Homo sapiens: one gene and its partners. The protein of the gene in region 4 purifies or fractionates together with the protein of the main gene of each other region. This does not show direct contact. Each region holds a gene or a part of one and is shown on either strand. Other genes may lie near its edges. The genes, in order: ST7L, LEMD2, ERGIC2 and SLC39A8.

What was found.
Region 1: the proteins of SLC39A8 (region 4) and ST7L purify together in Homo sapiens (affinity purification with mass spectrometry; 2 studies listed by BioGRID and IntAct, with this or other methods). This does not show direct contact.
Region 2: the proteins of SLC39A8 (region 4) and LEMD2 purify together in Homo sapiens (affinity purification with mass spectrometry; 3 studies listed by BioGRID and IntAct, with this or other methods). This does not show direct contact.
Region 3: the proteins of SLC39A8 (region 4) and ERGIC2 purify together in Homo sapiens (affinity purification with mass spectrometry; 3 studies listed by BioGRID and IntAct, with this or other methods). This does not show direct contact.

Annotation. Positions count from the first base shown.
Region 1 is NC_000001.11:112,525,142-112,532,177, forward strand, and holds part of ST7L (suppressor of tumorigenicity 7 protein-like), read right to left. Parts: intron 5,025-7,036; exon of another isoform or gene 971-5,024; coding exon 872-970; 3' UTR 1-871.
Region 2 is NC_000006.12:33,772,131-33,779,130, forward strand, and holds part of LEMD2 (LEM domain-containing protein 2), read right to left. Parts: intron 6,258-7,000; coding exon 6,112-6,257; intron 5,110-6,111; coding exon 5,008-5,109; intron 4,927-5,007; coding exon 4,824-4,926; intron 649-4,823; coding exon 498-648; 3' UTR 1-497. UniProt on the Homo sapiens protein: Nuclear lamina-associated inner nuclear membrane protein that is involved in nuclear structure organization, maintenance of nuclear envelope (NE) integrity and NE reformation after mitosis.
Region 3 is NC_000012.12:29,371,166-29,378,201, forward strand, and holds part of ERGIC2 (endoplasmic reticulum-Golgi intermediate compartment protein 2), read right to left. Parts: intron 506-7,036; 5' UTR 469-505; coding exon 363-468; intron 1-362. UniProt on the Homo sapiens protein: Possible role in transport between endoplasmic reticulum and Golgi.
Region 4 is NC_000004.12:102,342,457-102,349,332, forward strand, and holds the start of SLC39A8 (metal cation symporter ZIP8 isoform a precursor), read right to left. Parts: upstream 3,027-6,876; 5' UTR 2,889-3,026; intron 2,798-2,888; exon of another isoform or gene 2,460-2,797; 5' UTR 2,207-2,459; coding exon 1,988-2,206; intron 1-1,987. UniProt on the Homo sapiens protein: Electroneutral divalent metal cation:bicarbonate symporter of the plasma membrane mediating the cellular uptake of zinc and manganese, two divalent metal cations important for development, tissue homeostasis and immunity.

The DNA of each region.
Region 1 (7,036 bases), on a different chromosome or scaffold from region 4:
GGAGCAGTCTCCTATGACTGCATGGGGTATAACTGCCAAGCCTACTGCTCATGACCTGTGGTTGTTTTTAACTCTTAACTGGGTTAGAAAACTGGAGAGCTTTGGATTCCAGGGATGATCTCCATAAGAGAGAAGCACTGGAAAAGACCAAGTGGTGGCTTTATTAGGGTAAATATATCACAGTTGCTACAGTGAATTGAGCTTTCTCAGAAGCTATTATTTTCTTTGGGTGATTGGCAGGTATAGGGCAATAGCCAGTGGGGTGTCAGTAATATGCCCTGTCCCTGACCTCAAAGGTAAAGGGATAGAAAAGAGAGGGCGTTGACAAACTCATTTTCCCACTTCCCACTCATGGCTTATATTATCTCTGAGCATCTCGGTGGCTATTCCTCATTTACTTAAGATGTTTTAGTCATTCTGGATGTGCAAATGCAAGGCAAGCATTCTCCCACTGGCCCCCTAACGGTTAACTATCCTGGCTTAAAATTTTCCTTTGCTCACTTCCATTCTATGAGTATATCGATGGAGCAGCTGGACATTAGAGTTCTTTCTCTTTGACCAAAGGAGCCAAAATGCGGTGACTTGACTTCAACCCCAACAGCCCCTGTAAGTAGCCCTGGCCAAACAGAAAGGCTAAGCTGAATGAAGAAAAAAGGAAGACAATTTCATCTACAGTTGTCCTTTTTGACAGCTTCCAAGGGGGGTTTGCCTAGGAATAACAATATTCATAAGAAGCTTTTTCATATGCAAAATGCTTTAGCATATATGTAATCCTCACAACAACCCTGTGAGGTAGGGGTTACTGTCACTTTACAGATGCTGTTCAGAAAAATTTGGTGATTTGTCCAAGGTCACATGAACAGTGCGTGGCTCAGCCAGAACTCAAACCTAGGTCTTCTGACTTCAAATCCTGTGTATTCTCCTCAAAGCCTGAGGATGCCCAGGGTTGGGGGCACCAGAGTCCCAGCACCTTCAAAACAGAAATTGATACAAAATGTTCAAGCCCTGTAGGAGTCCCAGGACAGCCAAGAGAGTATATCTGAGCACAGTTTACAAAGGAACAGCCTAGGCCCTCCTGAACCTTATCAACCAATGGCTCTTTTGCCATTTCTGCCACTATTACCACCAGTACCATGTGACCACTATACAACATATTCCACATTTAAACAACTCTGGCTCCTAATTCTACTCCTTTTTTCCCCTTCAGATTAACATTAAAAATTTTATCTAGTCCTTTTGAAATTATGCTAAATGTATAGACACAGTAGAAGTAGTCATGACAGAAAATTATTAAGGCTTTGAAAATATGTATCAGAGGCCGGGTGCAGTGGCTCATGCCTGTAATCCCAGCACTTTGGGAGGCCGAGGTGGGGCAGATCACGAGGTCAGGAGATTGAGACCATCCTGGCTAACACGGTGAAACCCTGTCTCTACTAAAAATACAAAAAAATTAGCCGGGCCTGGTGGCGGGCGCCTGTAGTCCCAGCTACTGGGGAGGCTGAGGCAGGAGAATGGCGTGAACCCAGGAGGCAGAGCTTGCAGTGAGCCAAGATGCACCACTGCACTCCAGCCTGGGAGACAGAGCGAGACTCCGTCACAAAAAAAAAAAAAAAGAAGGTATGTATTAGAATTTTCTTTGAGATTTCACTCCTTTTAAAAATGACGTCAACTCCTGGGTTAGGAAAGCAAGATGAGGGAATAAGTGTCCTAAGAAACTCCCATCCCAAGCCAGACAGATGCCTACCCGTGGCCTGGCAAAGGTCCTGGGATCTCAAGCTGATGCAAGCAATTTGTGTACACCAAGGCAAGGGGTCTCAATCCTGCAGAGAAACCCATGAGATGAGGCAGACAGCAGATTTTCACTTGATCAAACACTTGCTGCTCTCAACCCCTCTTTGTTTTCCCATCCAAAATCTGGACCTCTGTTTAGGCGCAAGACAGTGAGTAAGAGCAGCTCCAAAAGATGACGTATGCAAGGGGAACTCTTCTGTTCAATCCTGTAATGTTTTCTGTTAGAGACAGCATAGGCTACCTATCCTAATCCTGCACCCCAACTGTTAAGACAGAAGGGAAAAGTACAATGTTCATCAATCATAGCTCTGGGATGCTGCAGCTCCCTGACCTGGGCCCCTACTTGAGCTAGGAGAAGAACACCTCATGAAAACAGTCTACCTATAGTCAGGACTTCCCCAAGGCAGACTTTATTTTTTGGTCCATCGATCTTGGCTCTCACTGTTCTCCCTGCTTCCCACCCCCAACTGCCTCTGCATGTGGGCTCAGAAGTCATCATCTAAAGAATTCCATTGCTCACCTCCTGCATAGCAGCACAGCCCCATGAGGCCACACACCAGATGGAGGGGATAAAAGTACGAGGTCATGGCTTCTTGCAAGAGGCTTTTTCTTAAACTAACCCTGACTCCTGGAAAAGAGGCAGAGCAGGAGAGTGTTGAATGAGCTGCTGATGACAGCAGCTTCATAGGTCTTGTGTATAAAGGAAGGAAAAAGCTAACTTGGCTTTCCGTGGAAATTTACCTACTCCCATTTTCAGGTCTACTCCTGGTCTCACATCTACTTCTTGAAGGTGTCTAAGTAGAATGCAGAGATTGTCAAGCTAGAGGGTTAACTCCTTCCCAATTGTAGGGATCTATTCAGCAGGCTGCCACACACATGCTGAGGTGGAGGCCAACCCTGAACACATGCGCTGCTTCTTTAGGAATGTAACTATGAAGTAAAAGGAAACAGTAAGGAAGGTGAACTGGAACTCTGGGGAAACTGAAAAGGTCATCAATAGGCCTTCAAAATATTTGTGTGTAATAAGTAGACACAAGAGGCTGGAGGAAGATGATCATTCCTAGAATAATTATGCTTACTGGGTGACAATATACAGAAGCAACAATTACAATAAAATGAAACAGTTTAATGGACTAGGAAGCAGAAGTCTGAGAATAAAGGAATTAGGTTAATGAGATTAAGCAGAGATGGCATTCCACAGGAGGTGACTTTTGAGTTGAATTTTTAAAAGATAGCTTTATGTGTTTTATGAACTGACTGAGGGCAGTCAGAAGAAGGCATTCTAAATAGAGGGAACTGGTATGTGCTGAAACTTAGAAGCAGGAATGTACAAGCAATATATAAGGAATTTCAAGCAAGTACACATTATATACACTGGGGAATACAGAGAAATTAGAATGCTGAGATCAGGGCTTAAATAATGTGAGGTGACTGTGTGCACCTAGACTGTCAAATGGTTCAGCATCCCCTATAGAGCCACATAGTATCTTGATTTATGTCAGTAAACATCAGGGCACCTATGGAAAAGCACAAGGATGAGTCCATTTGTTACAGACCCAGGGACTAACAGAGATCTACACTGTAAAGTTCAACAAAATGCTACATATCATTAACTACAGCTCCTTATCATTTGAGATTCTGGGCTAAGTAAGAGATATCAAATATCCTATCCAGTACTGTGATACATTAATGTAGGCTTACAGGCCCAGAACCTGGCATAAATCAAGCCAAACCCTTAAGAAATTAGAATGTGAAAAGAAAATAATTTAAAATAGAAAATACATGCTGCTTTTCCTCACTCCCAAACTTAAAACTTGACTGGTCCTACATATTCTACTTGGTATATTGAATTTTTGCAGCTAGCAGATTTATCGTATCTGAGGCCATAGTGAATAGAAGAGCTGCAAAAGAGCTTTAGAGACTGCAAAACCAGCTCACTAATAAATGAGGAACTTTATTCTAATTTACTACCAGGGGCTGAAGTAGCAGCCAAAGAAGGAGACAAATTCTAACTTCATGATCTCTAGTTAGGTGTCTATTTTCCTGCATTTGCTAAAGGTAAAAATCGCTACTTATGGGGCTTTTGTCATACTTCTTAACCAAACTTCCCTAACTTCTGAGGATAAAAACCATAAGGGCAATCTTATTCTTCCAAAGCAGTTCCCTGGTGCCACTTTCAGAAACAGAGTATTGAACTATGGGTCTGACCCAGTGTGGCACTGAGTGTGTGTGTGTTTGTGTGTTTGTGTGTGTGTGTACACTGAATAAGCCAAAACGTGTGCCATATTCTAGGTTTCTGCTTTACTTAACTGGCAAAATTTGGTGCTGTAAGGGAGGCAGCCACAAAACCAGTGATAGCATTTGTTAGTATCATCTTAGTTCTCTTCCCTCCCCTAGGTAGTTTATAAAGGGTGATTTCTGAAACCCTTCACAAAAGAAAAGCTCAAGGGTTTACATTCAACTGTGACAGCACTATGAATTCATTAAGAAGCATGTTTCAGGTTGCACTGTAATTTCCCTATGTAATACAAACCCATGGAATCTGACATAAGCTGATTGCTCATGCTGGTTGTTTTATTTACATTTCTGAATGGAAAGGATTTCAATACTCATAAAATATCTAACTGGCTTATTTTTCATCTGTTCTCCCAGAGAAGCTATTATAAGATAGGCATAGAGACAGAAGTCTCAACTTGTATAACTGGTTAAGCAACCAGGGAAATGTTATTGCTCAAAATGCAATTTTAAAAAATTCAATATGGAACTTGAGGCCAAAAAAACAGAAGGTTACTCTCAATGCCATCCAAAAGATAAAAGTTAAAAAAAAAAAAAAAAAAAAAGGTAACTATGCTCATTATTTTCAACCAAGTTCTATGGAGGTGGTACCTTCACAGGAGCTCAGTGGAACTGGGGTTTACTTACATCTTTTTTCTGGGAACCTAATGTTAGCAGACACAGTTGCTAGTTTGAACAGGAATGCAGATGAATGGATGAAAGTGGGCTCCCTACCACCCAGAAATATGAATGTGCCTCCTTACCAATATGCTACAAATCAGACCTCTGAATTAGAAGATGCCATCATGCAACTAACTTACTATCTGGAGATGTGTATTTTGTTAACCTAGGCAAAGAATAACAATTTCTGCTTATTCCAGTAGGTGTGACAAGCTCAGAGAAGTGAGCGACAAGCTAGAGAAGTAATAATTACCAATAAAGTAAATTCCAAAGCCGAATCCCCAGTTTTCTGCCTCCAAGTTGTTGTTCAAATAGTTTATCTTCCTTTCTTCTACTGCAACACTAGTTTAATCAGTACATTCTACAACTCTCTAGTATTATTATAATATTTGCATGAGTAGTTTAGAATTTAGCCTTGGGCCTGCTCTTCTACCATTTTACCATATTTACTGATTACATTTTACCATATTTTACCATATTTACTGATTACATGCCTAATTTGTATAAACTCAAGGAGAGGTTCTGTGCCTTTTTGTTTGTTTTTTGAGATGGATTCTCGCTCTGTCACTAGGGCTGGAGTGCAGTGGCGTGATCTTGGCTCACTGCAACCTTCGCCTCCCAGGTTCAAGCAATTCTCCTGCCTCAGCCTCCTGAGTAGCTGGGATTACAGGCGCCTGCCACCACATCAGGCTAATTTTTGTGTTTTTAGTAGAGACAAGGTTTCACCATGTTGGCCAGGCTGGTCTCAAACTCCTGACCTCAGATGATCTACCCACCTCGGCCTCCCAAAGTGTTGGGATTACAGGAGTGAGCCACCGCACCCAGCCTCTGTGCCTATTTTAAAACATATATCCCAAAGTCATATCCCCAGTGATCCAGCTAGTCTGTTACTTTAATGAGACAGCTCAATAAAGATAGGAAATATTTTTTCAGTTACTTAAAGAGAAAATAATACTGGTGGTTCTCCCTGTAAAGAGGTAGAATTGCCAAAAAATGCAGAATTGATCAGCAAAACCCAGCTATAAAGAAAGGGCAAAAGGAACTTTATTTTAGTGCCTTATCCCAATATCCTTTTATTTAGTTTTTTGATTAACATGATGTGTGCCTATTTTCAGAATCAGTGACTGCCAGCTGCAGCTCTTGACATTATCAAGTGAGCTCTGGAAAATTCTGGGTAGCTCTTTCCTATTCTCTCACATGCCCAAAGAACTAAGTAATTTTGGTCCTAACTCTTACTATTCTATTCTTCTTCACATGAAATCACATTGTTTCATACTGAAAACCAGGATGGCTATTAGTTCTTATTAATCTGTCATTATTAGGAATGAGAGGATATAAAAGAGGTATATAAAATGTATGAGTGTAGAGCTTTTGTCTAAGGCAATTACTCTGTGAATCTGAGGTGAGACATTTCTTAAATTTTGAATTGTGGAGCTCTCCATTTTTTGATAAATTATATTCATATAAACATTATAATAAATAACACTGCTTACAAAAAGATGAATTCCAGCTGCTGAGTATAAAGATGAAAGTACTCCACATCACATATTTGGAAAAGAATAAAGATATCTCTTTCTATATGTTCTTGCTTGACCTAACCGAATAAATTCTTCTGAAAGGAAGCATAATCTATTAGTCTAGACTGACCTTTTGGGTCACTATATCTTACGGGAGCCGTGTGAAAATAACTCACCATTCCCTTCCAGTCAAATAAATGAATATTCAAGGATGAACTCATCTATTGTGGCAATAGCTTCCACCTTATACTAATACATCTTCATGCCCATCTCAAACCCCCTACCACTAGACTATGAGTTACTTATGAACAGGGATTATATTTTATACTTCACAGGTACCCAATGAATTTGAAATGCAAAGACCTGTTATATGTTATAGGACAATCATTACCATATTTTAGCATGTTATAGGACAATTAAAACCATGTTTTAATTTGCTGAGGCTCTTTACAAATCTAAACTTTGAAAACAAATCAAGACAGGCCCTATTGGAGTCCTTCCATTCAATAAGCCAACATTCAAAGAAGACTCTTTTCAGGTTATCCAGGACTCTCTGAACTGCATGTTCTACTGCAGTTTTTGTTTTTTGTTTTTTAAAGGTGGTATTACAAGAGCTAAAATTCACCAAGGGCAAATTAGTAAGAAAAGTCTTCACAGCTAGGGCTTAGCCAAATTAGAATCCCTGGGCTCGCAATAAGGGCTAAACCCCTAAAGGGATCAGAGTCTAATAAATAAAAAACATCCAGCTGAATTTTATCAGAGGGCAAAGTTTC
Region 2 (7,000 bases), on a different chromosome or scaffold from region 4:
GAGGCCCAGCCAGCCAGAGCACAGGCTTTCTCCCTTCACCCTGGAGCTCTCAAGTAACAACCCCCTGAAGGCACATGGACCAAGCTGCTCCCCATCCCGCCACCCGAAACACCATCCCTGCCCCACCTCCCAGGTGACAGACTCCCTGGCGTGGCCATGCCCCAGCCCACCAGCCCCACGCTTGTCAGCTGGGCCTGACAGCTGCTGCTCTTGTTTTCTATTCATGAAAACTCAACCCTTCTCCCCGTTTCTGCCAGCACAACAGGGCAGAGTCTGGGCTATCACCCTGGCTTCTCCCCCTCCCTTTAAAGGAAGCCCACATTTTCCTGCGAGCCGAACTCCTCTGAAGAGTATGGCAGACCTTTGGAATCGTGTCAGGACGAGACTGAAAGTCAAGGCAAGTGTGAATTCAGCACCGCAGGCCTGGTGACCCTCCTGTGCCTCTGGAGTGGGCTGTCCTGGGACAGGCTGACCGGGAACAAGTCCCCGCCCGGGGCTTATCGCTCTGAGTCAGAGAAGGAAGAGGGCTTAGTCCATCTCCACACCAGCATGTCCTCTCCTGCAACGCGGTGGGACTCCGTCTGGATCCGGGATTCGTTGGAGGCCAGGAACTCCACAGCTCGGTCCCAGACACGCTTCATGCGCCTCCTGCAATGAGAGGGACGGGGCTCTGCCTGGCACTGCCGAGGTGAGCCAGCCTGTGGATGCCCCTCCTACAAAGGGCACACATTTCCAGGCTCTGGCATGGAATTTATGTAAGAGAGGAAAAGCTGGCAGGTACTAACATGACAACTGCAGAGGAGAAAAACGTCTTGGGCCATAGAGAAATGATTCCTCAACCTTCACTGATCCAAACACATTCAATTAAAGGGAGCTAAAGGGCCGAGGTGTCTGGAGCACCCCCAGGTCTCCAGGTGTGCAGGGCTGTGCTAGGCTAGCTGACTCTTGCTGGGACCTGTTGCCTGCGCAGCCCTTGCCAAGCCAGTTCCAGTACCCCGCCAACTGCATCTTGATGCTGCTCTGGGTGGGCTCATTGAAGAGTGAGCACTGGGCTGTTTCATCTAAGCTCCACAGCACTCCAGGGGATGGGATGAGCTAAGCATCAGACGGGGGAGGCCAAGAAGCTGGAGCTGCTCTAGGGAACCAGAGCCACAACGGAGGGCCCCTTCAGTGGCCAGAGTCCCTTCTCTGCTGGGTCTCTAGGGCCTTGCACCCCCCTGGACAGCCTTCCCCTCATCTCTTCTTCCCCCCTTCCAGACTGGACAAGAAGGTTCCAAAGCCATGGGGGAGGGTCACTTTGATCTTCTCCCTTTGTGAAGCATGGTATTGCACAGCCCCCAGCCTTTTCTCATCACTGCAGCCCACCTCCCCATGACACCACACGTGGAAAGACAGTGACTGTGAGTGTGTACGCATGGGAGCAGAAGGGGAGGACAAACGGAGGTGGCCAGTGAGTCAGGAGGCGGGGGGGGGGCTAGGGCTTCCCCAGGGGTCAGGACCTGTCACCAACCAAACCCCATGGGCCTATTCAGCAGCCCCAACTTGGCTGGTCTGGCCGAGGCCACACATTCCCTGGGGACTGAGCTCCAAGGTGCTGGGTCCCTGAGCAGGAAGCGGCCAGTGTTGAGTGGGCAGTGTCTCACTCCAGCCCCTCCTTCCCAGGCCAGTTCTTCTCATCTCCCTCAGTCTTTCCCAAGCAGGCCCTCATCTACAGGGCAGACCTGACTGGCTAGCCAATGTCTCCTGACGTGGGGAGCTTGGCCTGGACTGACTGGGTGGCTTGGGAGGTAAGTCAAGAGAGCAAACAGAGCATGGGCGTCTGGGGTTCACATGGCTCTGACCCTGAGGGCCGGCTACCTGAGTGGCAGCAGCTCTGGGTATCTATGCTAATGCACGAAGGCTTGGGTGGTAGCTCCGGCTGCAGGCAAGCTGCAGTGCCGTCTCATGCTCTTATTTAAGCAAATATGTGTGTGGAATATCATTTAAGCCCAAGGCATAATGGCTACCCTTGGATGATGCCCACGTGCTAGGCACTGACTTTTTTTTTTTTTTTTTTTTTGAGATGGAGTCTCACTGTGTCACCCAGGCTGGAGTGCAGTGGTGTGATCTCAGCTCACTGCAACTTCCGCCTCCCGGGTTCAAGTGATTCTCCTGACTCAGCCTCCCGAGTAGCTGGGACTACAGGTGACTGCCACCATGCCCGGCTAATTTTTGTATTTTTAGTAGAGACGGGGTTTCACCACATTGGCCAGGCTGGTCTCAAACTCCTGACCTTGTGATCTGCCCGCCTTGGTCTCCCATTTTTTTTTTTTTTTTTGAGACAGGGTCTCGCTCTGTCACCCGGGCTGGTGTGCAATGGCATGATCTCGGCTTACTGCAACCTCCACCTCTTGGGTTCAAGTGATTCTCATGCCTCAGCCTCCTGAGTAGCTGGGATTACAGGTGCATGCCACCATGCCCGGCTAATTTTTGTATTTTTAGTAAAGATGGGGTTTCACTATGTTGCCCAGGCTGGTCTCGAACTCCTGACCTGAGGTGGCCCACCCACCTTGGCCTCCCAAAGTACTGAGATTACAGGCATGAGCCACCGTGCCTGGCTACTAGGCAGTGACTTAATGAACTTTGAGGCCACCACCCTGATACCAACCCCCCTTCCCTTAGGGCTTGTCACTACCTAATATCACATCTTTTCCTTATGCATCTTGTCATCTGTCTCCTTCCTGAGAACAAATGCTCCAGCTGGACAGGGATTTTTGTTTCTTCCACTTCCTGCTGTCTCCCTGTGACCCAGTAGGGTGTCTGGCATGTAGTAGGTGCTCAATAAACATTTGTGGAGGAACTGAATGAATGAATGAATGAATGAATGATAGTCTCTTCGTCACAGCCCTGTGCAAGGCAGCGGGATCACCTGCATTTTAGGATAAGGAAACTGTGGCACAGGTTGACTGAGATGCTCATTGTCACGATACTCCTGCCAGGGCCAGGAATTGGGTGGGAGTTTGAGTACCCCAAGTCACCCTCCCTGGGAGGTAGAGGGCCTCACGCTGAAACCAACAGCAAGCGCTCCTCAGAGCAAGCACAGCCCATGCTGCTGTGAGTCTGCTCACTCTAAACTTCCTGCCTGCCACCTTTCCAGGGGTGAGGTGAGCATGACAGGCAACAAGCACCTTCATGTTTAAGATGGACCTTTTTTTTATTTTTTTAAGAGATAGGGTCTTGCTCTGTTGTCCAGGCTGATGTGCAGTGGCATAGTTATAGCTCACTGTTGCCTCGACCTCCTGGGCTCGAGTGATCCTCCTGCCTCAGCCTCCTGAGTAGCTGGGACTACAGGCATGTGTCACCATGCCCACTAATATCTATTTTTTGTAGAGATGGGGTTTTGCTATGTTGTCCAGGCTGGTCTTGAACTCATGGGCTCAAGCAATCCTCCCACTTTGGCCTCCCAAAATGCTGGGATTACAGGTGTGAGCCACTGTGCCTGACTTAAAGTGGACTGCTAACGGCTCTATTTTTCTGATTCCTCTTGGGTTGCAGATAGGGATGATGTTGACAGTAGAGCCTGGTGGCGGGAGCACGGAAATGCCACTAGCCATGGGACTCTTGAGCACATTCCTCTACTTCCCTGTGCCTCAGTTCCCTTATAGGTAAAATGGGGCCACTTCTGTTGTGTGCGTGAACCATGGTGAGGACCAAGTGAGTGAGTTTGCATCTGTGGAGAGCTCCAAGTAGTGCCCGGCTCCCAGGGAGCACTCAGCAAGGGTGAGCTCTCAGCATCACCCAGCAGATGACAGCATCTGGCCAGAAACCACAGCAAGTGTCTGCTAGGGAGGGACCACAACCAGAGCCAACACTGGGGGGGGCCCTGCTGGCTGTCTCCTGGGACTCTGCCCTCCCCCACCCTGGTTCTGTCAGGACCCCAGTGTACAACTCCAGCAGTCACAGCCCATGTGGAAGGTGCCCTGCAGCTGCACATGACAGTGGCCCTGCCACCCCTTCCCATGAAGCTATGTGCCCTGGAAGCTGACCCCATTCATGTTGTGAAACTTTGCTTTCAATTACATGTATATGCATGAGTGTACGCATGCGTGTGTGGGAACTGGACCATGATGTTGCAGGTAACAGGTGTTTTTGACTGCAGGTCATGGTTTAAAAAGTTTGAAAAACAATTTCCTCCTCCTTGCCAGTGACTGATTCATAAACAGACATGTAAGAGATTCTGGTCAATAAAGCCTCAAGGAGTGTGTCACTGGAGGCTACTGGGAACATGTTCTCTTGCTTATAAGACAACAATAGGCCTACTTTTCCCCTGCTGGCTGTGACAAGGCAGACAGTGCCCCAGCTGCTGTTGGCCACCATCTGCAACCATGAGGGACCCCAGTCTGTTGATAACATCCATGGAGGAGTGTGGGACCACGAGAATCACAAGAGCAATGGAACCGGAGACCTGACTGTTCTGTGCCTGGAGCCCATGCAGCTCTGAACTTCCACTTACAGAGACTGAGGAGATCCTTCACTACTTGTGCCCTGGGGGAGGGAGCTGCTATTACTTGGAGCCCAAGGCCTCCTAACTGGTATCACCACTGCCAGTGTTCTCTCTACAGAGGTGTGGGATTGTGCTTTCATATGTCTTTTCTAGCTCATCCTGCCATAAAGAGCCGAGCATGCTGGGGAGCAGCAGGAGTGGGAGCAGAGCCACTCTTGGCCCTGGGGTCTGCACTGCCCTCAGCTGACATCTGATGCAAGGCTCTGGGTTTCCTTCTGGGGAGCTCAGTGGGGTCGGACCCCATCTTACCTCACACCCAGCGCCCCAGCCAGGGACTCACCGGCTCTGTGGAGGGATCAAGCTGTCGCGCACGTGCAGGATGCCTACATATGGATAGCGCTCCATGTCCTGCTCCCAGTCCACGTAATGGTCCTGGACCACGTCTGCAGGAGAGAGCACACCATTTAGGGCAAGGACCCTCTGGCTGGCGTCGGCAACCCTTTATTCACCAGGGGGCCACGCACCTATAATCTTCTTCACCATCTCATACATGGCTTGTTCCTCCTCTTCTAACTTTCGCCACCGATATTTTAGGAGAATTAGGAGCCCCCACAAAAAAGCCAAGCCTGTGAGGGAACAAAACACTGTTAATCCCTCACACTTCATTTGGCAGTGGGTCTCACCATGGACAAGATGCTGTGATGGATGCTGTGGGGGATCCACCACATGGGTTTGGGTACCTACTATGTGTCAGGCTCAGGGCCAGCATGCGAGAAACAAAAGATACAGAAATGCAGAGGGACGACAGATTATTAAGTGATCATCTTCCTCCCACCGGCTGTCACCACAGCGGCATCCCCAGCCGTCCAGATCTCGGCTCCTCCCAACCTCATTCTGGGGCTTTCATCTCCTCCCTTGTGAACCAGAACACAGTGTTTCATACATATATACATGCCGGGGCCCTTTGTATTCCGAGATGCTGCTGCCGATAATGATTTCTGTGCCTGATGGCACAGGGGAGGGAGCTGTGTGCACACTGAGGCGGTCTGTGATTTGTAGCTCCAACTATCTCTGGAAAGCCGTGGTTTCTGTGACTTGGCCTTTCGCCTTCAGAGACGCCCTGAGGTCTCTGCTCAAAGGCGGCCCCCGATGTCAGGGGATAAGACTGGTGCCCTCCTTTCAGTGCAGCACCCTGAGTCCTTCTTGCTTTCATCAGGTATCTGTAGCTCTCCAGGAGATGTTTATATTTTTCAGGGAGTAAAAGTAGGCCAAGCCCCTGCTGTGCCTCCTGCTCGAAGCTGGTCCACACTGGGATCCCTGCAGAGCCCAGAAGGGGTGGGGCCCAGCTCCTGCTCAGGCCAGGCTCCCGCTCAGGAAATCTGACAGTCCCCTGCCCTGAATCAAGGACATTTTCTAGTTATCCTCACGGATTCCTGCCACCAATCTCCAAAGGTAAATACAACCCAGGGCAGAGGCTGACTTGTTCATCTCCTCTGTTTTATGAGACAGACCTCAGGTTCACTAGACAGAAATGAACCCTCCGGGCCTGGAATTTCTATAGCTCATCATTCATGCCTAGGAGTATGCTTGACTGCACAGAAGGGGAGGGAAGGCGGCCGAGGACTTACACCAGAAGAAGATGAGCACGTTGGTGACAGCAGTGAGCAAGGCCCGGCTCAGGCGGCAGCCAACACCCATGCGGGGGTGGGCAGATTCCAGGCAGACCACCTTGTCCACAGTCGTCACCAATTCAGACTGGTCTTCTCCTTTCAACCTGAAACAGGACACAGGGCTCTGAACATGTTGGAAAGCTCCAAGGAGAGGCAGTGCAAGCCCCACTTCAAACAGGAGGAAGCGAAGGAAAGTGGGGACGCAAGGCCTCTACTTGCTTATAGAATAGGCTTGGTATCCTGGCTGCATTCTTTCCAGAAATTTCCCACATTGGCTACTTAGAATGAATAAAGCTTTAAAGACGGCAGCAGGCTTGAACCCCTACCGCTAAAGCAACGTCCCCCTGTCAGGTCTTTGACAGCCTCTCTCAGCATGCAGGAGATTAAACTGTAAATTGGATTCCCACCTCCCAGCATAGAGAAATGGAAATGTTTACTGAATCACTAGCTTTGCAATTGCATGGCAAGAACTGAAAGACAGAATCTGGGAGGTTGCACTTTTCCTCGGTGACAAGGAGGCACATAAGCTGTTTAAGTGTAAAGATCATGGGGCATCCATGAGGCTCATGGGGAATCCGTGAGGCTCATGGGGAATGAAAACCACCAGGCTCTCCGAGGCCAGACCCCAGCCACGGCGCCTCCACCATGGTCTCTGGCCAGGAGGTGTCAGGACCTGCAGAGGTGGGGACACCAGAGCCTTCTTCCAGCTAGGTGACCCAGGGCGAGAATATCATGCTCTTGAGGCTGCATGCTGGAATGGCTGGCATCCCAAGTGTCCTGATTTCTCAGGACCCACTTTCAATATGGTCATCCTGAGCGGCTCTGCCACCCTCCAGGCTGCCTTCCC
Region 3 (7,036 bases), on a different chromosome or scaffold from region 4:
GTAACCCCTAGGAGGTAAATACTAGTATGATCCCTATTTCATGGAAGAAACTAAGACAGATAGATTTGAATAACTTCCTCAAGGTCACATATTTAGGAAAGGGCAGCAAAGCAGAAACATTGGTTTAATGTATTAATGTTTTAATAAACACTGCCAAAGGCACAGATGGCACTGTGTTGGAGGCTATAGAGAATATTAATAAGAATTACAGCCAACAGAGTGGCATGAAGACAGACAAGTTACGAAGTTACGGCAGAATTCATTGATAAATTCTTCCTCATGGCTACATTTCTATATGTTGTTGACTGGATCACGCAGAAGTTGTACTTACTACAGAACTTTTAATGTTAACTGATACTCACCTGTACCTCCACTGGCTGAAGTCTCTACATAGCTCTCAGGAACCTTCGGAAAGGCATCCAACTCTTTTACCAAACTTAAAGTTTTTTTCCGATTCAGTCGCCTCATCTTCAGGAAAACCTTCCTCTTCCTTCATATAGTCATGCTAAGGAATAAATAAATTAATGAATAAATGAATCCTTTAAAGAGATAAAAAGGTTTCTTTAAATTTAGGATAACTGACAAATGTCCTTAAAACAACTTAACATTCTCATCCCCCCTTAAAAATAAAAAGCATAGTATTTATCCACACTACTCCTTTCCCCATTCATGCCCTGACAAAAACTACTAATGGAAGGCAATTTAAATACAAAAACACATTATATAGCAAGAAAAAAAGTGAAAAGTAATTCAATCACATGAATAATGTCTAAATATAAAAATTAAGATAATGTTTTCTATTAAATTGAAAACTATATAAAAATAATACACTTCCAATAATGAATGACAGTGAAGTAAAATGGCCTGCTCATACATTACTAACAAGAATATAGGCCAGGCACGGTCGCTCACGCCTGTAATCCCAGTACTTTGGGAGGCCGAGGCGGGTGGATCATCTGAGGTCAGGAGTTTGAGAAACCAGTCTGGCCAACATGGGAAAACCCCATCTCTACTAAAAATACAAAAAATTAGCCAGGTGTGGTGGCACGTGCCTGTAGTCCCAGCTACCTAGGAGGCTGAGGCAGGAGAATCGCTTGAACCTGGAAGGTGGAGGTTGCAGTAAGCCAAGATCATGCCACTGCACTGCAGTCTGGGTTACAGAGTGAGACTCCATCTCAAATAAAAATAAAAATAATAATAATAATAATAATGGAAGAAGAAGAAGAAGAAAGAAGGTGGGAGAAAGCGGGAAAAGGCGGGAGAAGGGAGAAGAAGAAAAAGAAGAAGAAGACATTTACCACACCACTCCTCTTCTAAGTAAATGCCCATTGAGGAATTTATCCTATGACAATAACCTGCGGTTTTAACCAAAATTTGATTACGAGGATATTTCTCACAGTGTTATTTTTAAATACTGAAGACAGAAACAAATCCATTGTATCCAATGTACAAATTAAGGTGAAGCATCTTTACGTAGCCATTGAAAATCTTTTTTTTTTCTTTTTTTGAGACAGGATCTTGCTCTGTCACCCAGGCTGGAGTGCAGTGGCGTGATCTCAACTCACCACAATCTCAGCCTCCCTGGCTCAAGCGATCCTCCTCGCCTCAGCCTCCCAAATAGCTAGGACTATAGGCATGCACCTCCACCCCCAGCTAATTTTTGTATTTTTTGTAGAGACGGAGTTTCACCTTGTTGCCCAGGCTGGGTCTCAAACTCCTGGGCTGAAGCCTTCCACCCACCTCGGCCTCTCAAAAAAAGTGCTGGGATTATAGATGTGAACCACCACACCTGGCCTGAAACTCTTTTATTTAAAAAAAAAAAAATTAATGACATAAGAAAATAGTCATGATACTGATACAATAAGAAAAGACTAGAAGGTCACATGGATCCTAACTTTATGGGAGACAGGAAAAGATACATAAGAAACAAAACTGAACATCTACACACAAAAATGTTAAAAGTAGATCATGAATTTTAATTGCCTTTACATATAACTTCAGATTTCCCATGTTATCTATTTTTATAATCAAAACATTTAAAAATTGGCTGCTTGCTATTTATCAGCACGTCATCTACATCTAAAAATGTTATAAAGCCAATCAAATAACTGAATTCTTAGATATTTACATAATTTTTATGACTGATTTATAAATAATACTATAGGTAATATTATAAAGAATTCCCAGTAATCAAGGCTTTATTAATAAAATCAACACATAATAGAATAAATCGTACAGTTGCAGAAGTCACTATAAGAGAAATAATGTCTCTGGAAGAGAGCAGACAGACTTTGGGTCTGAAATCTAATGGGGAGGATTAATATACAAAGAATAGGCAAAAGAAAGAAGATTCATAAAGAAAAAGAAGGGCCAGAGAATGAAAAACTGGCAGTAAACATGAATACTGTCTAAAGGAAAGAAGCTCTGACCAGGAGCACTATTTATCAGTCCAGCAGGGAGCTACTACTCTACAGTAGAGTTGAAAGCATTAATACATTGATTTCCTCTGCCATTAAAATCAACCAACTAAACTTCCCTTGCTGGTTCCACACTCACAAAGCAGCCTTCGAATTATGATTTTTTTCCCATGCACTTAGTATTCGAAAGAAAAAAATAGATGTCATAGACAAAACAGATGACAGTTTTCTGACCCCCACGTCAGTTATAAAACTGGTATTCCCATCGATAAATTAAGCTTCTGAATGTTTGTTATGTATATGCCATGCCCGCTAAACTTGTTTAGCTCTGATAATCAAATTTATTTTCTGTACCTTTTTAGTAGTAACTGCACAAAAACTGACCCTTTTTCAATCTTTCAATTTCTACTCTTTCTGATTTGAGTAAAATATTAAATATCTGTATGTCTCTTCTCTTTAAAACAGAACTCTCCCTTAAACTCAAGTCCAACTCCAACAATACATCTCTCGCAGCACACCTACAGCCAACTTAAAAGAATGAGTTGTCCCCATTCATCTACTGTGACTACTTCCTCACCCAACTCTCACCTCTTAACTAAATTTGCTCTGAGCAAGGTAATTAACTTCCTTAGTACTGACAGACACTCCTCAGTCCTTATCTAACTGCACCTCTGAGAAAACACACTGCTTATCACTTCTTTTTCTTCTCGAAACATTCTCTTACCTTGACTTAAGTGATATCACATCCCCAATTTTCATTCTACCTGGAAAACCCTCTTTGGCTTACTGTGCAAATTCATCTTTCTCTCAAGATTCTGCACTAGGTCTCCCCCTTAACCTCCACACCTTCCCCAAATGATCGCCCACTCCTTCCATTTCAATCTGCATGTTGATTTATCCCAAATCTTGATTCTCTGCCCAGATCTCTCTGCAGATATGTATAACCCCTTGCCTTCTGTTACCTTTTCATTTGGACATTCCAAACACAATTCAGACTCAACAAGTCCAAAAATGAATACTTCACCCTGTAAAAATTGTTCCTCCTGTATCTATCTTAATGATAACACCATAAGCCCAACTACACAAGCCAGAAACATGGGTTATATCTTTAGACTTAAGCTATTTCTAAATTTCTCTTAAATCTGCCTGTCTTCTCTTCTTCAGGCCTACTGAGAAATTCCTTATGTCCAAGTATGTTCCTAGTCCCAACTGCCACAATCTATCACTACATTGCTTCAACAACCTCTAATCTTCAACCTTCCAATTCTCTCTCTATACTGTAATAATAAATTATCTTTTTAATACATAAATCTGATATTTCTCTTCAAATCTTTGTAAAACTTCCCTTCCCACTACACTTAAGAGCTTGGATTCTATCCTAACATGTTTTACAAAGCCCTTCAAAAACCAGGTCCTGCTAACCTCTCTTCAAACCCAATCACTCACAGTCTACGTTCCAACCATATTAAATCACTTTCAATTCCTTAAATATCCTATTCTCTTTGCCAGAAATATTTTTTCTTCCCCCTACCGCATCTCTACATTTGACTAACTCCTACTTACTCTTCAAGGTCCAGTCTACTCATCTCTACCTTGAGCAAGCAGGGGGAACAAAAAAACTTTCCATGGCCTTCAAAGTCTATCTGCTTCTAGAACGTTGTACCTTTATCACACTATTTCTAATTGCCTCTTTTTCTGTTTCCTCCACCGGATTGTTAGAGCAGGAACCATGTCTAACTTGATCTTTGTATCTCCAATGCCTAGCGAACAGGTATTCAATATTTATTGAGAAAAGGAAGGAAGGAAATTTTCCCAGAAACACCACAGTAGCACATCTTTCAAATCACAGCAGTATGTCATACTTAGGTAAGTAAATATATAAAAATAAGATCCACAAGAAGGATTTTCCTGTTGTCTACTGTCCCAGGACCTAGAACAGTGGCCATCACATAGTCAGTATAGCACTGTTAAACAAATGAATAAAACAGTGAATTACATTTCTAAAAGTTTATATAAATGTTATATTTGTATAATGAGCTTTCTAAATGCTCTTTTAATTTATATATAAGCATAAAGATACGGCAAGCAGTTAGTTTTACAAATCTCCTAATAATACATACAACCTATTCAACACTCCTCCCTTGAAAGTCTAGCTGGAATATATCATGTGGCTCCCTACCCATCTCTAGCTTCCTCCATCCCTGTTTTCCAGGGGATATCACTCTAGAATGGAGCACCTCGCCCCTCAGCTACTCCACCAGTCCCATTCCTGAAAGCTCAGCACTAACCTACCTCCAAGAAATTCATTCCATTTTGCATACTTGCCAACCTACTGTAAAAGTCACTGTCTGGCATAAACAAGGTATCCAATAACTTCTAGCTTTTCTAAAAGAAATTGCTGTCTGCTCTCTTTATAAAACCTGACTTTCTATTGGCAGCAGTTCCATTCCAATCCTTAGTCATTTCTGAGACTCACAGGTTACAGAAGTATCATGTTTTACCATATTTCTCAACCATCTCTCATGTTTTGTGCTATGTATTATTTGAAGCTCTTTAAACATTAATTCATTTAATCTTGTAAATGACTCTATGAAGCAGCAGGTACTATTTTTAATCCTACTTTTTGATGAGGAAATGAGGCACAGAACTGTCAAATAATTTTCCCAGGCTACATAGCAGGTGGTAGAACTTGAAACTATGCTCCAAACCACAGTACACACTGATTCTCACTTCCGTACTTGTTGCTATATTCCACTAACATCTGAATATATTCATAATTTGCTTAATGACTTCAGCACCCAGATCATTCAATATGCTTCTCCCCCACTCCATTATCATCCTTTGGAATTCATGCTCTGATGGCATTTATCCTATAGCATTCATTCACAATAAAACCTTTTTACCATGTAAGCTTAACAGCGCTTCTCCTCCTGTGACCTCCATCTTAATTCTATGGAAAGCCACCCATGAGCAAGGTCAACCCTTAAAACTGTTCCACCTCTAAAATCCAAAACACATTTACCTCCCCAAGTAGGAACTACCCTTCAAGCTCTTTCCTAAGATAAATCTGCTCTTCATTTTCACTGGTGTTCTCAAATCCTTTAAATCCTACCAGATACCCAATTTCATTGCTCCATTCCCACTCTATTTGCCTCTCTACTCAGTGTGGTAAGCCATTTTCAAAAATGTGTTTGGAAATACCTCAGATCATCAATGCTTGCCAGAAGTCATTGCTATTCTGTGACAAAATTTTCTAGTCATGGACAACGTAGAAAAGAACTTTTAAAGCTAAATTTATTCCATTTTAAAATGTGTCCTTTATTCTGAGATTATTTTATTCCATTTTGTCAAAACAGCCTTTCCTTTATGAAATGATAAAAACAGATATAACAGAGGTTGTTTTGTTTTTGGATGTCTTTATTCAGCAAAATTAAAAAATGTAATTCTAGGTCAGTTTTTATACCCAGCCCTTTTCCCTGTCCACACGGCCCGCCCCTCTCAAATAGATATACATTTTCTTGTATTGGTCCACAAAATCTAGTTAGAAGCCGTTACACAAGATTCCTTTGCCCACTGGTTGGTGCTGCTATTCATACCTTGACAATCTCCAGTACTATGTCTGTTTTCTTTGATGTCTCTCCTTAAACTGTCTTGAATATTAAAAAACAAAACAAACATAAATAAACTCCAGAAAGTCACTGATAACAGCTGGAGCTAAGACAAGACAGTTGTCCCTCAGTATCCATGGGGTATTGGTTCCAGGACCTCCCTTGGATATCAAAATTCTCAGATGCTCAAGTCACTGACATAAAATGGTGTAGTTTTTGCATATAACCTATGCACATCCTCTTGTATACTTTAAATGATCTTTAGACTACTTATAAAACCTAATATAATGTAAATGCTATGTAAATAGTTGTACTGTTTAGGAAATAATGAAAAGAAAGAAGTCTGTAAGTATTCAGTACAGACACAATACTTGTTCAGTAGGCATGCAATTTTTCCTTCTTGAATATTTTCAATCTGCAACTGGTTGAGTCCACAGATGCAGAATCCACAGATATGGAGGGGTGACTGTATTTTGAAAAACTTCCTAAGACATAAGAGACTCCCTTTCAGGTTGGAACACAGACATTATCAACACTCACTGTAAGTAAAGTCACACAGCCTATATTTCATCATTGTATCCATCTGAATATAATGAGACTATTAAATGCTTTACCAAAATTAAAATACAGAATTCATGAACTTTTTATAGTCTGCTCAGTTAAGTTTAATTCTCCAAAGAAAAATGAAGACAAAAGTTATTTCCTGCTACCCAAGTTTTGAGTTAACTTCTATTTTTAATACATATTTGGCAATATGAGAAAAATTTAATTGGTTAATACATATGGCCAAGTTGCAGTCTGAACTGTGTCAACTCACAATTTGATACGTTGAACAAGATATGTTGAAGTCTCAACCTCTGGTATCTATGAATGGGCCTTATTTGGAAATATTTGAGTCTTTCAGATATAACTAATTAAGATGAGATCATACTGGATCAGGGTGCTCCAAAATCTGAGACTGGTGTCCTTTTAAGAAGGCCATGTGAAGACACAGAGAAACACAAGGGAAAA
Region 4 (6,876 bases):
CATTGCACTCCAGCCTGAGCAACAAGAGTAAAACTCAGTCTCAAAAAAAAAGCAAGAACATCAAAGAGATGTTTGTTAGGCTTATTAAGTGGTAAATTTTCCTTGGCTTCCTTTTCTTTCCAAGGTAATTATGGGCTTCTTCCTGTCTCTTTTTGATGCCCACAGAGGCCATAATGAGGGCAGTTAAATATGCAAACATGAGAATGAGAAAACAGGTGTCAAGATACATATAATTTTACCTATTGAGACATCCTGCCTGCTAATAAACAGAGAATCGTATTACTGGTACACTTAACCAATTTTCCTAAATAATTTAGGCATGTTTTCCAATGTCTTTGCAAAGGTGATGTGGGGAGGTCTTTTGCCCCTTTAAAATTCATCAACACCTCCAGACACTGCAAGATAAGGAGGTCATGCAAGTCAAAACAATGTGTGGGCTACAGATATGCAGCTTCAAGTCAATCCTCTAAACTTCTTTCCAAGCACGTGACCATACCTACCTGGAAATACTGGAGTCAGCTCAGTTGTTTCCCCTATTTGATAAGAAAAGAATGCAACTAGCCAGCAAACACTTTATTTTCTTAAATATTAGCATAATTTGTGGGCATTTCCATTTTTCCAACACATCATTTCTCAGATATTACCCCAGATAAAATACCATGCCCAGAACTGGAATTATAGACAATTTACTAAAGAACATGCATAAGGGGACCACAAAACCCTTCTAGATCAAAGAGAGACCACCTCTGACATGCCATGGCATCAGAAAGTTCTACTTTTCTTAAGAGCCATATACTTTAATTGTGGTAAGATATTTCTAACAAAAAGATCAATCTACGTATAATGTTATTAACATGGAATTTATTTGATTACAGTTTCCCTAACTGTAATCTAAAGTCATATTCATTAGGAAACGCCAAATTTCCAAGAGCAGAGTATAATATGCAGCATTTCCCAAACATCTTGGACCCCAAAAACTTCTTGTAACAAACTAACATCGTCCAAAAATGACAAACGATATGGAAAATACCGTATTCTACCCTCCAATATCAGCTGTCAGTGGGACAGGAGTAAAGGAAAACAAGTCAAAGCACTGAGTTAACTGAGTTTTAAAAGACGGAGAGCAGTTTTGGAAGGATGCAGAAACTACACTTTGTCTACTTAACAATTTTAAGAACTACCCAATCACAGAGTATTTATTATAGAAATAATTAGGAATAATTTGATTTTATGTTTACAAAGAGGTATGATGTTTAACTGCTCCTACGTAGTTTGAAGCTTGTTCTTAAACCCAAGGTATTGCCAAATGCCTAGTAGTACCCTGTTTATTACTGAAAAAATTTTTTTAATCATTTTGGATAAATACTAGAATCAAATATTTGACCTGACATATGACAAGGAACTAACAATATAAGCCTAGTCTACCACCATCTGGATGACCAAATTAGAATCTTAGTCTCAAGGCCGCCCCTGTTTCAGCCCTGAATGCCTCATGTAATGTACACAGGAGCCAGAACTACATTATATCTCGTTTTCAAATAGCACTGGTTACGCACCGGGCAACTGTTAACCAGGGTGGCATGTGATAATCTTCCTTGCTAACCTTGTAGGAAGTGTGCGAGCCGTTATCTTTCTGGCAAGATTTAAGTAACTCATTCCTATCTAAAAAGCATCTGTTAAAGTGGCGTCACACCCTCAACTACTTCATAAAGTTTTCTATAAAATGTTAAAATCACCAGAGTCGGACCTCTCAGTTCATCAGGCGTAAAACTGCAGTTTCCGGCTGCCAAATCCCTTAACAACGTTAACCTTTTAATCCTTCAGCCTCGTCTAGTGAAAAGCAAGTGTCACCAGATACCGCCTTCTACTTGAGAAATATAACAAGATTCTTTCTCCTGCACTTTTCCCAAATAAAAACGGCTCATATACAAAGTGAAGTCTAGGGACACCCACAGTACGGAGGGCTGCCCGGACCTGGCGGCCTTACCTGGTTGAAGTGCAGCTGGCCAGGCTCCGGGACGCCCACGCGGGAGGCGGCTCCCATCTGCTCCAGCAAGTGCTGGAGCTGCGCCGCCGACAGGCTCAGATTCGCGCCGAACACGCTCAGCACATCCTCGCTGAAGGCTAGCCCTGGCCCCTCCGCCACTCCTCCGAGGCCGGCGGCCGCCAGCAACAGGAGCCCGGCCACCGCGCGACCCGGGGCCATCCTGGCCTGGGCTTCCCCTTGAGGGCCCGCGACGGGCTGCCGCGCAGAGGGACGCGCGCGGGCGCACTGGCGTCCTTGCCCAAGGGCGGGAGCGTCAGTGCTCGGCGCTGCTCCGAGTCAGAGGTGGCGCGGGACGCCCCTGGTTCTCCGACGCCTTCGAAAGAACAGCAGCTCGCGACCTGCGGGGCATTGAAGTGGCAGCGTAGCCGAGGGGAGCGATAGGCGGAGTGGGCCCCCCGGCCTCCTGGAGAGCCTGAGATAAAGAGGACAAAGGGGGACAGAGATAAAGGCCACCAGGGCACCAGCCGGCAGGCTCCAGAAACGCTGCGTGGCAGTAGCCCTCAAACGCCCGGCCGGGCATGGGGCCAGACGCCCCGGATCCGGGTTTGCAAACGCCCCAGGATTTGCGTACATATGCTCCTCCCGGATATAAAGCCCCAAACCACGCCACTTCTTAGGAAAAACTAAAACCACACTAACTGTAGAACTCCACCTCCTCTTCCTGTCTTTCTGCTTTATTCTCTCCGCCGCAAACTTAGAAGTGAGACGTGCAGTCCCCAAGGAGCTGCAGAAAAGGGCTCTTCCGGAGTCCTGGGGATTGCGCGTTTAAAGGGGACCCTCCCTCTCCCCGGATCTTCTCTGAGCTTGGCAAGTTAATCGGAAGCACTCGCTGGCCTCTCACCTCTCCTATCTGTTTGTTTGTCTGTCTCTGCGTCTTTCTCTCTGCGTGTCAACGTAAGACTCGGTCTCTGGATCTCTCTCTCTTTCTGTCTCCCGCCCCCACAACCTCTGTATCTCTGACAGGTCCGCGGTGAAACTCCGCGATCCGCTCCGGCGCTCTTTACAAATAAGGGGAGGAGGGCCCTGTCCCCGCCTCCGTAGCACGTGGTGACCCATTTCCCCAGCCTGAACTCCCGCGCGCGTCCACGCCGGGGCGCAGGACCGCCGGCCTTCCCTCCGCGGGCGCTGCTCATTCCCAGCATCAGCCATGCCCTCTTCCCCACCCTCACTCCTGAGGGTTACCTGATGCCACCTCCGTGTCGGGGTCCCTAACTCCTCTCTGGTCTCGGGGACGCATGCATCTTTTCGTGATCTTGATGAAACCAACTTGCTGAAATGGAGCCTGGAGACCCTTGCATTGTCTACATAATTAACAGGAATTGCTTTTTTTTCTCACTTCTTAAAATCAGAGGAGAAAGAGGAAATCCAATGGTAGCGGTGGCGGGCTAGCTGAGCCAGCACTGCCCAAGCCGGCCCTTCCTGGCGGGATATCCGCAGATCAGAGGAATGTTTATTTGTTCATATGGGAGCTCAAGAAAAGCTGACTTAGGTGTGATGTCAACAGGTTTGTGTAAAGTGAGTGTGGTGTTTGAGGCAAAGTTTGTATCTGGTGGATATAGTGGTTCAAGTGTAAAGTGAAACCATGCTTCACTGTTAGATGGCTGTGAAAGGAAAATAAATCTTGAGACTTCAAAATCACCAAGCTAAAGGGAAACATCAAGAAGGGACCAGCTTAGGGCAAACCTGCCTGCCATTCTATTCAAATTCATCCCTCTGAGGCTCACCTGAGACAAATGCATATCTGATTGCTTTCTCTTCTCCATCGTTTATGCAAAAAATGCAGATTCACTGGGCCAGACTAAACTGTCTATTGAGTGGAAGGCTGATCATGGCCTCAAAAGAATGCAACCTTTTGTCTCTTGTCTATTATACTTCTAACCTGGAAGCCCCCACTTCCAATTGTCTCACCTTACTGGACTGAACCAATGTACATCTTACACATATTGATTGATGTCTCATGTCTCTCTAAAATATATAAAAGCAAACTGTACCCCCGACCACCTTGGGCACATGTCTCAGGACTTCCTGAGGCTGTGTCAGGGGCACATCCTTAACCTTGCCAAAATAAACTTTCTAAATTGACTGAGACCTGTCTCAGACATTTTGCATTCACGTGACTAAGGACAATAAAAAGAATACAAGATGCCGTTCTTGCCTTTCATCAGGAGAATGCACAGCCTCCTAAAATAGCACATTTTAAAGAGACATTAAGTCTAGACAAAGGGGAAAAGATGGGGAAAGGGAAAAAATCTTAATCTTAGAAGAGGAACCTAAAGACATAACTGCAGAAGAAAGAGACAGGTAGAGAACATTCCCAGAGGCTAAGGATCTAGGCAGACGAAGCTGAAGGATTGTCATATGGAAGAAGGTTTAACTATATTATATCTAACTTCAGAGGACAGAAGGCAGCAGTCATGGGGCAAAGTCACCCAGAGGAAGGTTTCTGTGGAATTATAAGGCATGGCTGCCTTGGAAGATAGTGATTTCTCCATGATCAAAAGTGATTCAAATCAACAGATCCTGGGTGACCGCCTTTAGTAGGTGGTAGGAGGATTCATGCCTGAAGGGAGATGAACTAAATGATCTTAATACTGTGCTCTTTCCAATTATAAAATCTACGTATTTGTTAATAATAATTTACAGAATTATGTTGATGCTAAAAGGGCAAATATTTCATCTAAGGGCCAGAAGTAAGTTAATATCACAGTTGTCCTCTTAAATCACTCAGCTCGTGGGACTCTTCAAGCCTTTCATTGGATTTTAAAATATAGTTTGTTGCCTATTTTTCCTTTGGACCTCCGTGATGCAAAATGATTTTTGGAAATTAATGAATGCTCTAAATGGCTAATCTATACCCAGCAAGTTGTTTATTTCCAGCTTTTCTAAAACTAAATTTGTCCATAAAGTGTTAGATTTTAACAAATATAAAAGGTTTTTAAAAATACAAATCTTGGCTGGGCACTGTGGCTCACGCCTGTAATCTCAGCACTTTGGGAGAATAAGGTGGGCAGATAGCTTGAGATCAGGAGTTCAGACCAACCTGGCCAACATGTAAAAACCCTGTGTCTACTAAAAGTACAAAAATTAGCCAGGCATGGTGGCGCACGCTTGTAATCCTTGCTACTCGGGAGGCTGAGGCATGAAAATCGCTTGAACCTAGGAGACAGAGGTTGCAGTGAGCCAAGATCAGGACACTGCACTCCAACCTGGGTGACAGAGTGAGACTCTGCCTCAAAAAAGAAAATAATACAAATACAAATACAAATCTTACATTGTGGGATTTTTAGAATATATAATTTATCTATTTATCAGTCATTCATGTCTATGCACATACATTTCGCCAGCCCATCAAGTCCACAAAATAAGAAACAGTAAAATAAATGACCAACCTGCATGCCAACTTTACTAAGCCCAGTTAACATAATGCAATTAAGAGAAAGTGTTCAGAAAATTTCAGGTTACTAACTACCAAATAGGTAAGGCTAATTTCTAGATCATCCAGTCTAATAAACTATAATCACCAAAGAACTACAGGTTAGGCATCTCTAATTCAAAAATTCCAAATCCAAAATACTGCAAAATATGAAACTTTTTGAGTGCTGAAATGACACCAATGGAAAATTCTACACCTGACCTCATTTGACAGGTGCACAAAATTATTGGAAATATTATATAGAATTACTTTCAGCCTATGTTTATAGGGTGTATATGAAACATAAATGAATTTTGTGTTTAGACTTGGGTCCCATCCCCAAAATATCTCATTTTATATATATGTAAATATTCAGAAATCTTTAATAATCCAAATTTGAAACACTTCTGGTCCCAAGCATTTCAAATCAACTCATAACCAAATAATGTTTCATTTATTTATTTATTTATTTTTTAAGAGGCAGGATCTCACTATGTTGCTCAAGCTAGGACGCAGTGGCTATTCACAGGCACAATCCAACTATTGACCACCACGGAGTTTTGACCTACTCCATTCAGACCTGAGCCAGTTCACACCTCCTCAGACAACCTGGTGGTCCCCAGTCACCACCACCCCACATCTGAAGGTCATCATATTGATGCCAAACTTAGTGACTGGCACAGCCCACTACATCCCAGAGCTCCTGGGCTCGAGTGATCCTCCCACCTCAGCCTCCTCAACAGCTGGGATTACAGGCCTGTGCCACTGCACCTAGCCAGATAAATTTTAGGGTCCAAATTCTATAAGTCATATTATTACAAAAGAAAAACACTTCCCATTTAAAATATAATGTATAATGTATAAAATATATTTTTCTTAGAAATTTGCCTTAAAGGTCGAATACTTTTAAATGATAATGAGGGTAGCATGCCAAGTACACTGGCCAGGATGTTGAAAAATGTCACGTTTCTGACTCAGGCACTTGGGAAACCTGGGAAACTCATTTGACCTCACCAGGATGAATTCCCTTGTCTGTAAAACAAGATAATTGGGACAGAAGAATATCAAGTCTCCATTCCAGCCTTTTTATTTCTAAGTGTCTAATTTGGAAGTCACTTATCAGAACAAAACATGAAACCCCTAAAAAAGAAATAAGACTTCACTTCCCCAAGTGAAAGGACAGTTAACTTCAAATCTTACTTTCTCTAATGATTTCAGTTTTTTCTCAGTTCAGATCTTTTGTGACTATCGCAAATATAAAGCAAACTGGCCTCTTGTAAACATTTTCATGCATGCATTTTCTCTGTGGAAGGACTAATAAGGAAATCTAAAAGATGACACACCCCTTTCTCTTCTTCCCTTCTCTTCCTTGCCATCCAGCCTGGAAGTCGTTAGGTGGAGTATAGCAGTGTCTGTG